Regions from separate parts of the Homo sapiens genome. Here region 1 is linked to region 2. The links come from fine-mapping of genetic effects on gene expression. A gene starts in region 2. The other region holds a variant in brackets. All regions are shown on one strand. Distances are between the middles of the regions.

Region 1 (4,404 bases), 21 kb after region 2:
ATTTGTTTGATTATTTCTTCATGATTTAGGTTTAATACATTAGGGAAGCTTTTTATGTAGGTTAAGTTGTAAATTTTCCATTGCATCACACCAAGAGCCACATGATGTCTGATTTTTCCATTCTTAGAGATGCTAAGTTTTGCTCACTTGGTTAAGATAACAGTATTTCAGATCTGTATTGCAAAACCATATTATCTGTGGGGTGTTACTTATAGACCATGTGAGTATCCTTTCACTAAGTGATTTTATGTATTCCATCAGACCTTTATTTTGCAGTCTCAAGTACAAGTGTTAAAAATATCTACCAAGTACCTATGATCCCATATCTTCAAAAACACTAATTGTTTGTCGTCTTGTTATTATGATAAATAAATAAGATTTAACGGTTGTTTTTTTAGCTTCTGTCCAATTATAGTATTTATTTATTTATTTATTTATTTTTGAGAGAGGGTCTTGCCCTGTTGCCCAGGCTAGAGTGCAATGGCACGATCTCGGCTTACTGCAACCTCTGCCTCCTGGGTTCAAGCGATTCTCCTGCCTCAGCCTCCTGAGTAGCTGGGAGTATAGGCATGCGTAACCATACCCAGTTAAGTTTTTTTTGTATCTTTAGTAGAGATGGGGTTTCACCATGTTGGCCAGGCTGGTCTCGAACTCCTGACCTTGCGATTGCCCGCCTCGGCCTCCCAAAGTGCTGGGATTATAGGCATGAGCCACCTTACCTGGCCACCTATTCCCATCTTTAATTGGCCATAACTCCGTGAGTATAGATGGAGTCCTCTTACCAGTGTCCTACAAACACTAGTAGACCTGTGTTCATGGGTGTGCTTTAATGGTGTTGACACATCACACATCACAGTACTCTTCTGGATTGCAGAAGTATAAGTAGAACGATGATGTATTAGGCTAAATACTCTCATTTTAATAATTTACCTTCATGTCCCTGAAAGCAATTATTGAACATATGTTTGGAAACAAGAATGATAGCTTCAGATGTAGTACAAGTCCCACTTTATCTGGTCACTATGTGATTAGACCGTGTTACTTGGGCTTCTGTAATGTATTAAATAGTACCTCCTCAGTGACGAAAGGAGCCTTTAATAGTCTAGTTTGGCTGGTGCAGTGGCTCACACCTGTAATTCGAGCACTTTGGGAAGCTGAGGTAGGAGGATTGCTTGAGCTCAGGAGTTCAAAACTAGCCTGGGCAACATAGTGAGACCCCATCTCTACAAAAAAGTAAAATTAGTTAGGCATGATGATGCACAGGTGTAGTCCCAGCTACTTGGGAGGCTGCAGTGGGAAGATTGCTTGAGCCCAGGATTTCTAGGCAGCAGTGAGCCATCACTGCACTACTGCACTCTGGCCTGGGTGACAGAGTGAGACCTTGTCTTAAAAACAAAGAAACAAACCAAAAAACCCAGTTTTTTTTTTTCATTTCAAAGTTGAAATTTTTGTATAATGTTGGTTAGTAAAATTTCTGAAATTACTAGAGAAAAATATTTAATGCTATAGTTTATGATGGATTATATAGTATAAATGCTTATCATATAAGATTGACTAAATATTTTAAGGAAATTCATCAAAATGTCTAATATTTGACATTTAAAAATCAATATGATTAGGTGTTGGCATGCTTTATTTTTTTCTTCTAGAGACAAAGTCTTGCTCTGTTACCTAGGCTGGAGTGCAATAGTGTAGTTATGGCTCACTGCAGCTTCGAAATCCTGGGCTCAAGTGATCCTCTTGCCTCAGTCTCCTGAGTAGCTGGGACCACAGATGCATGCCACCACCCCTAACTAATTTTTAAAAATGTTTTGTAGACATGAGGCCTTGCTCTATTGCCCAGGCTGATCTTGAACCCTTGGGCTCAGGCAATCCTCCTGCCTTGCAAAGCGCTGGGATTACAGATGTGAGTCAATGTGCCCAGCCCTTTCTTGACATTTTAATTAAAGGATTGGGACTTTTAAAAACCATTATAAAATACCTTGGTATTAGCATACATATACTTAAATTCGTTTAGCTGTAATAGCCAGCCTAAATTTTTTCAGCAAAAACTTTATCAGATGCTAACAATGATAAAACCTAATTATTGAAAACTATTAAACTTCCCGCCAGGCGCGGTGGCTCATGCCTGTAATCCCAGCACTTTGGGAGGCCAAGGTGGGTGGATCATGAGGTTGAGAGATTAAGACCATCCTGGCTAACACGGTGAAACCCTGTCTCTACTAAAAATACAAAAAATTAGCCAGGCGTGGTTTCTGGCGCCTGTAGTCCCAGCTACTCGGGAGGTTGAGGCAGGAGAATGGCGTGAACCTGGGGGGCGGAGGTTGCAGTGAGCCGAGATCGAGCCACTGCACTCCAGCCTGGGCGACAGAGTGAGACTCCGTCTCAAAAAAAATAAATAAATAAAATAAACAAACTTCCCAAGGTTTTTCCACATTCATTCTGATGTCTCCTTCAATAGTTATTATTTATTGTTTTACT[C/CAGTT]AGAAAGTATGTAGTTTAAAATTATTAAAATAGTATTATGTATTTATAGTAGAGTGAAAAAGAAAATCTAAATATAAAGATCTCTCAAATCTACCATGAATGTTAATGGATTTTTATTATATATTACTGTTTTGTAACCTGGTATTCTTTATATAAAAATAAATTGTGAAAAGTATGAATTATTAATATAGGTTATCATTGATTACGGTAGTTTATGGTAGTACCATAATTAAACCAATCCTTTAACATTGGTTGAGTTGGGTTCACTTTTTCATTATTTAAACACAACTACCATCACAAAACAACAACACTGTGATCAGCATTCATACAACCAGAACATGGGGTTATATTATAATTATTTTCAGTATAAATTCTTGGAGGCAGAGTTTCAAAGTCTGGATAGCTGTAGAACTATTTTCAAATATAAAGTTGAGACATTGGAAGATCTGTAGCTTAGAGTTTATTGTTTAATTTGTTGTTGAGTAACTTTAAATAGAAACATTAAAAAGAATATGTAGCTGTTTCCTTAATGCTACAATTTATGTTATGAATGTATAATGGTCATGTTAAGTGTTTTATTTATTGCTTTATTTATATATTGCACATTTTTCATGATTATGTATGTGTTTCAAAGGCTATAGAATTGCTGTTGACATCTGGATAGTTATAAAAGCCTAATATAAGTTTATGTAACATCTTTATTTGACAGATTAGTAAGTGGGTGTTCTTAGCAACTTCTCTGGTGTATGCAATCCTTGGGCTTTAGACTTTTACAGGCCACTTTTAAACTCAACCTTTAGCATTTACCAGAGATCTGATCCTTATGCTTCCCACCTGTGAAATATGGATGATACCAAGCTCACAGAAAGTTGTGGATTAAATGAAGCAAATATGGAACTCCCCAGAGTAGTTCTTGATAGATAATAAATGCACTAATTAACTTTACTTATTTTCTTAGTATAGCTAAACAGTGAGACGAGTTACCAAAGGTCTATTTCTAAAATGTGGAAAGGCCAACCTGATTTTTCAGTTAACAAATCTTTGCAAACATATAATTTTCAGTGAGAACATTATCACTATTAAAAAGGACACAGAATTACAATTGACTAAATGTAAAGTTTTATTTTTTGAACAGTTGGACGGTATTTCTCTTGGGATATATTTATTCTTTTATAAGAATTTTATCATTTACATGTAATAGAAACTGTTGGACTTAATAGAAGACTTGAAAAAAAAACTGATAAATGAAAAAAAGGAAAAATTAACCTTGGAATTTAAAATTCGAGAAGAAGTTACACAGGAGTTTACTCAGTATTGGGCTCAACGGGAAGCTGACTTTAAGTAAGTTATTTATTTCATGTCCAGGTAAAAATTGAGAATTTTATTTAGTTTTTTAGTTTTTTTTTTTACTTAGTTTACTTTTTATATTAGGTGGCTTCTGAATTCTGATCTCTTTATACAAGCTTGAAAATAGCTGTTACTGGTCTGGTGCGGTGGCTCACGCCTGTAATCCCAGCATTTTGGGAGGCCTAGGCAGGCGGATCACTGAAGGTCAGGAGGTCGAGATCAGCCTGGCCAACATGGTGAAACCTCGTCTGTACTAAAAATAGAAAAATTAGCTGGGCGTACTGGCATGTTCCTGAAGTCCCAGCTGCTTTCAGGAGGCTGAGGCACGAGAATCTCTTGAACCTGGGAGGTGTAGGTTGCAGTGAGCTGAGATTGTGTCACTGCACTCCAGCCTGGGCGACAGAGTGAGACTCTTGTCTCAGAGAAGAAAAAAAAGAATATAGCTGTAACTAATCCCATGCATGGTTATTTAAATTTTCTCTCTTTTTTAAATTTAAATTTTAATTTTTTGAGATGGAGTCTTGTGCTGTCACCCAGGCTGGTATTGAGTGGTGCGATCTTGGCTCACGGCAACCT
Region 2 (4,404 bases):
TCTGTTTGTTATATAAATTGAAGCAAGTTATTATTTAACATATGCCAGATACTTTTATAAATACTTTACACTACTACCTGATTTAATCTTCAACACTTCTATTTAGTAGATACCTTTACTATTTCCTTACTAGCTCCATGCCTCAGTTTCCTCTTCTATTAATTGGCTGTAACAACAACAAATTGCCTTACAGAGTTACTGTTAGGATTAAATGAGTATAAAGTGCTAAGAATACTACCTGGCATAAAGAAAGTTAGCTATTACTAACAGTAGAGACTGTGGCCAGGGCAGAAAAATCAGCTTGATGTAACTTACCAAATTTTTCATTTTATGTTAATATTCATTTCAAGGGCACAGATGGAATTCTTTGGAATGGGTACTAAATCTTAAGCACTTCCCAATCAAGCTGGCTCTGCATCTCCCTAAGGGAAAAACCCAGCAGCTGGTGCTGAAATGAAAAACGTCGGAAAAAGTACCTTTAAAATCTGGATACTTTTCTGCAACTCCTCTGCCATCTTCCAAGTCCACATTATCATTATCTTTTCCTGGGATCTCTTGCAACAGCCTCCTAACTGGTTCAACAGCATCCTCCCTGGCTGCCTCTAGTTTCTCCAGGAGATTAACCTTTTCAAAAGATAGATGCACATTGGATTGCACCATGCCCATGCTTAAAACTGGTTATCCAGTAAGCATTTCGTAATACTCAAGTCAGTAACTTGGCTAAGGCTTACAGGGTCTGGCCTTGGCCCATGCCTACAGATTCACTCCCCTGACTCCTCCCCATGGTCTCTACCCAGCCACATCAGCTTTCATTCATTGTTCAACAAATATTGATTTGCTTGTCTTGTGTTAGAGAGTCATTGAGGATACATTAGCGACCAAACAAAACACAGTTATTCTACTCACAGAACTTAGATTTTACAGGGTGGGGGAACAACAACAATTGCTAGTTGTAAAAAGTATAAAAATGAAATTGAACCTGCAAATAAAAAAAGAGTGCTCACTTGAGATACAGTAGCCAGGAAAGTCTTCTTTAAGAAGGTACTATTTTAGACGTAACCTAAATGATGAAGGGAAGTGCCACGTGTTGAATGGAGAAGAGAGAATTTAGGTACAGGGAACAACCCATGCAAAGGTTCATACATGCTGGAAAGAAGTTGGTGTTTGAGGTATCCAGAGCAGATCAACTTACTGTACAGTTAGTGGGGAGTGAGGTCGGCTGACACTTGATTGTGCAGGACCTGGGAGGCCATGGTAAAGATCAGAATTCTATTCCTTTTCCCCCCTCCTCTTTTTATTTTATAAAATCTGTTATTTTAGAAAGTTGCAAGACTGGTACGATGTACACCATTATACCCTTCAACTAGATTCACCAATTACTAATATTTTGCCACATTTGCTTTCTCTATTTTTTTGCCATATCTTTTGAAGGTAAGCCGCAAACACTGTGACACTTTGCTGCTAATTACTTTAGCAAGCGCCTTCCAAAAACAAAGGCATTCTTCCACTTAATCACAAATTAATTCTCACATGCAATCAATTTAAAACTGATTCAATATCATCTAATATGTAGTTCATATTTAAATTTCCCCAGTTGTCCACAAATGTCTTTCGAAGTTTTTTTTTTTTTTTAAAAACTATGAACCAGCCAAGATTCACAAATTTCATTTGGTTTCTTTTGACTCTCGACTAAAGTAATTTTCCACTTCGTTTTTTTCTTTTTCCTGTCATGACACTGACATTTTTGAAGAGCCTAGGCCTGTTGTCTTGTAGAATATTCTACATTGTTTTTTTCTGATTGTTTCCTCATGATTAATGTCAAACATTTCTAGCACAAATACTATCGGGTGATATTAGCGATGCTAAGTATCTTCACTTGGTTAAGGTATGTCTAATAAATCTCTTCAGTGTAAAATTCTATTTTCCCTTTATAATAAGAAATGATCTGTAGGGTGATTCTTTGAGATACTAACATCCTCTTCCCTACAACCTTTCAGTTAATTGTTTGTTTTAGCATCTTGCATTCATTAGTTTTAGCATTCATAAGCTTACCTATATCAATTTTTAGACTGGCAGTTGCACAATGGGGATGCAGCGAGGGAAGTGACCCTCCGGATCCCGGGATGCCGAGCCTTTTTCTGCCCCGTAGGGACAGGACTGGGAAGTGGCTAGCCCGCCATTCCTCGGCCCGTCCTTAGGGGAGTCGCAGGACTAAGTGCAGTGGCAGTGGCCTCACCTCGGGCCTTCGCCACATCTTTATTGCCTCAAGGACAGAATTGGAGATCGGTGTCCCAGTCAACAGCGTGGTACTTATGACAGCCGCGAGAAAGCGCACTACTAAAGCCCGGCTAGCAGAGCTGGGAGGCAAACCAGACCGTCAGCACCAGGGCGGCCCACGCCTGCTTCCGCCCATTGGCTGCCCGCGTTTCAAGACCCGCCCCCATATTGGAGAGCTTCTTCCGGTAGCCACTGGAAAGCCCGCAGCGCGAGCCGGCTACGCTCCCTGGCGGAGCTCTGGACGCCCCACCTACTCCCAGCGTTCAGTGCGGTGCCCTGGCCGCCATTGTTTGAATTTGAAAACGGTAACATCGCAGTGCTGCTCGCGGGTCTGGCTAGTCAGGCGAAGTTTGCAGGTGAGGAGGTGACCCGCGGGAATGTGTGGGGAAGGAGGTGGGTGACTGCGCATGTATGGGGCCTAAGGTGGGGAAACGGCTTTGGCAATGTGGACATGTTCCGACAGGGCTCATACCCCAGTGGAGGTTACTGTCAGGAACTGGGTTGCGGAGCGATGCGAACACGGGGTACGCAGCGAGGAATGAGTCATACTAATTCGGTTACGGTTTAAATCTCGCCTCCACTGCTAATTAGCTGAGTGACGCAAGACAATTCATTTAATCTCTCTCTGTACCTTAGTTTTCTTATCAGTTAAAAGGCTGCAATGAAGTGTCTATTTCTTTCGGCTTTTGTGAAGATTAAATGGTAATGTGTAAAGTTATTAGTGCTGGCACACAGTAGGTACTAAATGTTTGCAGTTATTAATATTATTATTGTTGTTGCTTCTGTTGTTGTTGAGGAACAGGCCTGTTTTGCCACACCTAGTTTTCTGAAGCTCTGAGGTGAGCAGTTTGCTCGGCTGGTAGGTAACACGGCCTTTTTGCGGGGGGAGCCCTGTGGTAGCCTCTGTGCACTTATTTCCAGACTACTCCTACTGGTCCTTGGGGCTTGCCCTTCTAGGGTTTTGCAGTGCCAGGCTGAAGAGTTTGTGGCACAGTGACTGCTGTCATTCCCCAGTTTAGAAGGCTTTCTCCATCTCGATTCGCTCGCTGGTTCAGTGATGCATGTCTGGCACAGTTCTCTTATATTTCTTGCTAAACTACTAGTTTACAGAAGTTCACGCCTTATGGGTTAGGTAGTGTAACAGTGTATTTATCTTACATGTCCAAGACTCCAGATTTTAAATTGTAAAAATAACATAAAATACTCATCGATTAGTTGTGAAGACTTTTTTTGAGGCTTTGTGTTGTAGACCACATTCAGAAACCTCATTCAGCAACAGATTCTGCTATTTTTCACCAAAGTCTCCAATTGTGGATTCTTATTGGAGAGAGGGTAAATATGCAGTTTTCCAGTCAGAGCAGCCTTTTGAAATGAAAAATGAGGTCTTGGAGCCTGCTGTCACGAAAGATAATATTACAGACTAGGACCGACTTTTTTTTTTTTTTTTGGAATAGTATTTTCTTTATAACCATTATTTTAAGTCATTAGGTAGTCTTTATCCCTGCATAAGTCGCTGAATTTGTTATAGGGGATACAGAGTGGTATAAGGCAAGGTTCTTGCCATCAAGAAGTTTCCAGTTTAGTTGGGAAGGCCACGTATAAGTAGAAGTCATCTAAAATCGCAAGAAGTTACAGTAAGTCTGAACACTTTTAGAAATGCTAGGAAGTAGTTTGTTCATTGAAAAATGAGCATATGAACAAATACTTTATTATAACTGCTTTTAGTACATAGGAATATTCTTTTTAATTCAGCAATTTAAAAGATTTATCAACACTTTTCTTTAAACCAAAAATTATTATTTGAAGCCACAGGTGTTTTTTAGTTTTCTGGGCATTTCCATGAACTCTGTGTTATGAAATGTCAGGCCGGTACTTTAACGTTTTGCAGATGCTCCCCCCTCTGCACCCCCTTACCCATGATCTAGATCAGTGCTTTCCTTAGTCTTTTTGCAATTTAGGGGAAAAAAGTCAACTATGTTCTTGTGATACGTTTAGGAATTTCAGCCTGATCAAGGAAAAAGATTGACAACAAGATGGCAGGAATAAACAAGGATTTTGACAGGATTGTAGGCAAAGGAAATCCGTCTCAGTTTGGGACCTTTTCTAGACCAGGGTGAGGGGCCACCA

Which allele goes with the higher level. Alleles are on the strand shown, and positions count from the first base shown. SD is a standard deviation of normalised expression in the study named.
With allele C in place of CAGTT in region 1, the expression in fetal neocortex of the gene that starts at base 2,543 in region 2 is higher (small effect, 0.28 SD a copy in Walker 2019).

What was found. PIP is the estimated chance that this variant, and not a neighbour inherited with it, causes the effect. A credible set is the group of variants that fine-mapping cannot tell apart.
Region 1: its variant is the best candidate, but not a certain one, in a credible set for the expression of KIF20B in fetal neocortex (Walker 2019, PIP 0.58).

The regions. Positions count from the first base shown.
Region 1 is chr10:89,720,282-89,724,685 of GRCh38, forward strand. It overlaps KIF20B (kinesin family member 20B), which reads left to right. Exons shown (of 33, transcript NM_001284259.2): 14 at 3,683-3,822. Among named protein-coding and RNA genes, the nearest start is that of KIF20B, 21 kb to the left of the region's middle. The variant C/CAGTT (reference allele first, on the strand shown) is at 2,482.
Region 2 is chr10:89,699,048-89,703,451 of GRCh38, forward strand. KIF20B (kinesin family member 20B) reads left to right here and starts at 2,543. Exons shown (of 33, transcript NM_001284259.2): 1 at 2,543-2,633. RefSeq lists a silencer at 2,065-2,144 and enhancers at 2,189-2,704, 2,705-3,221.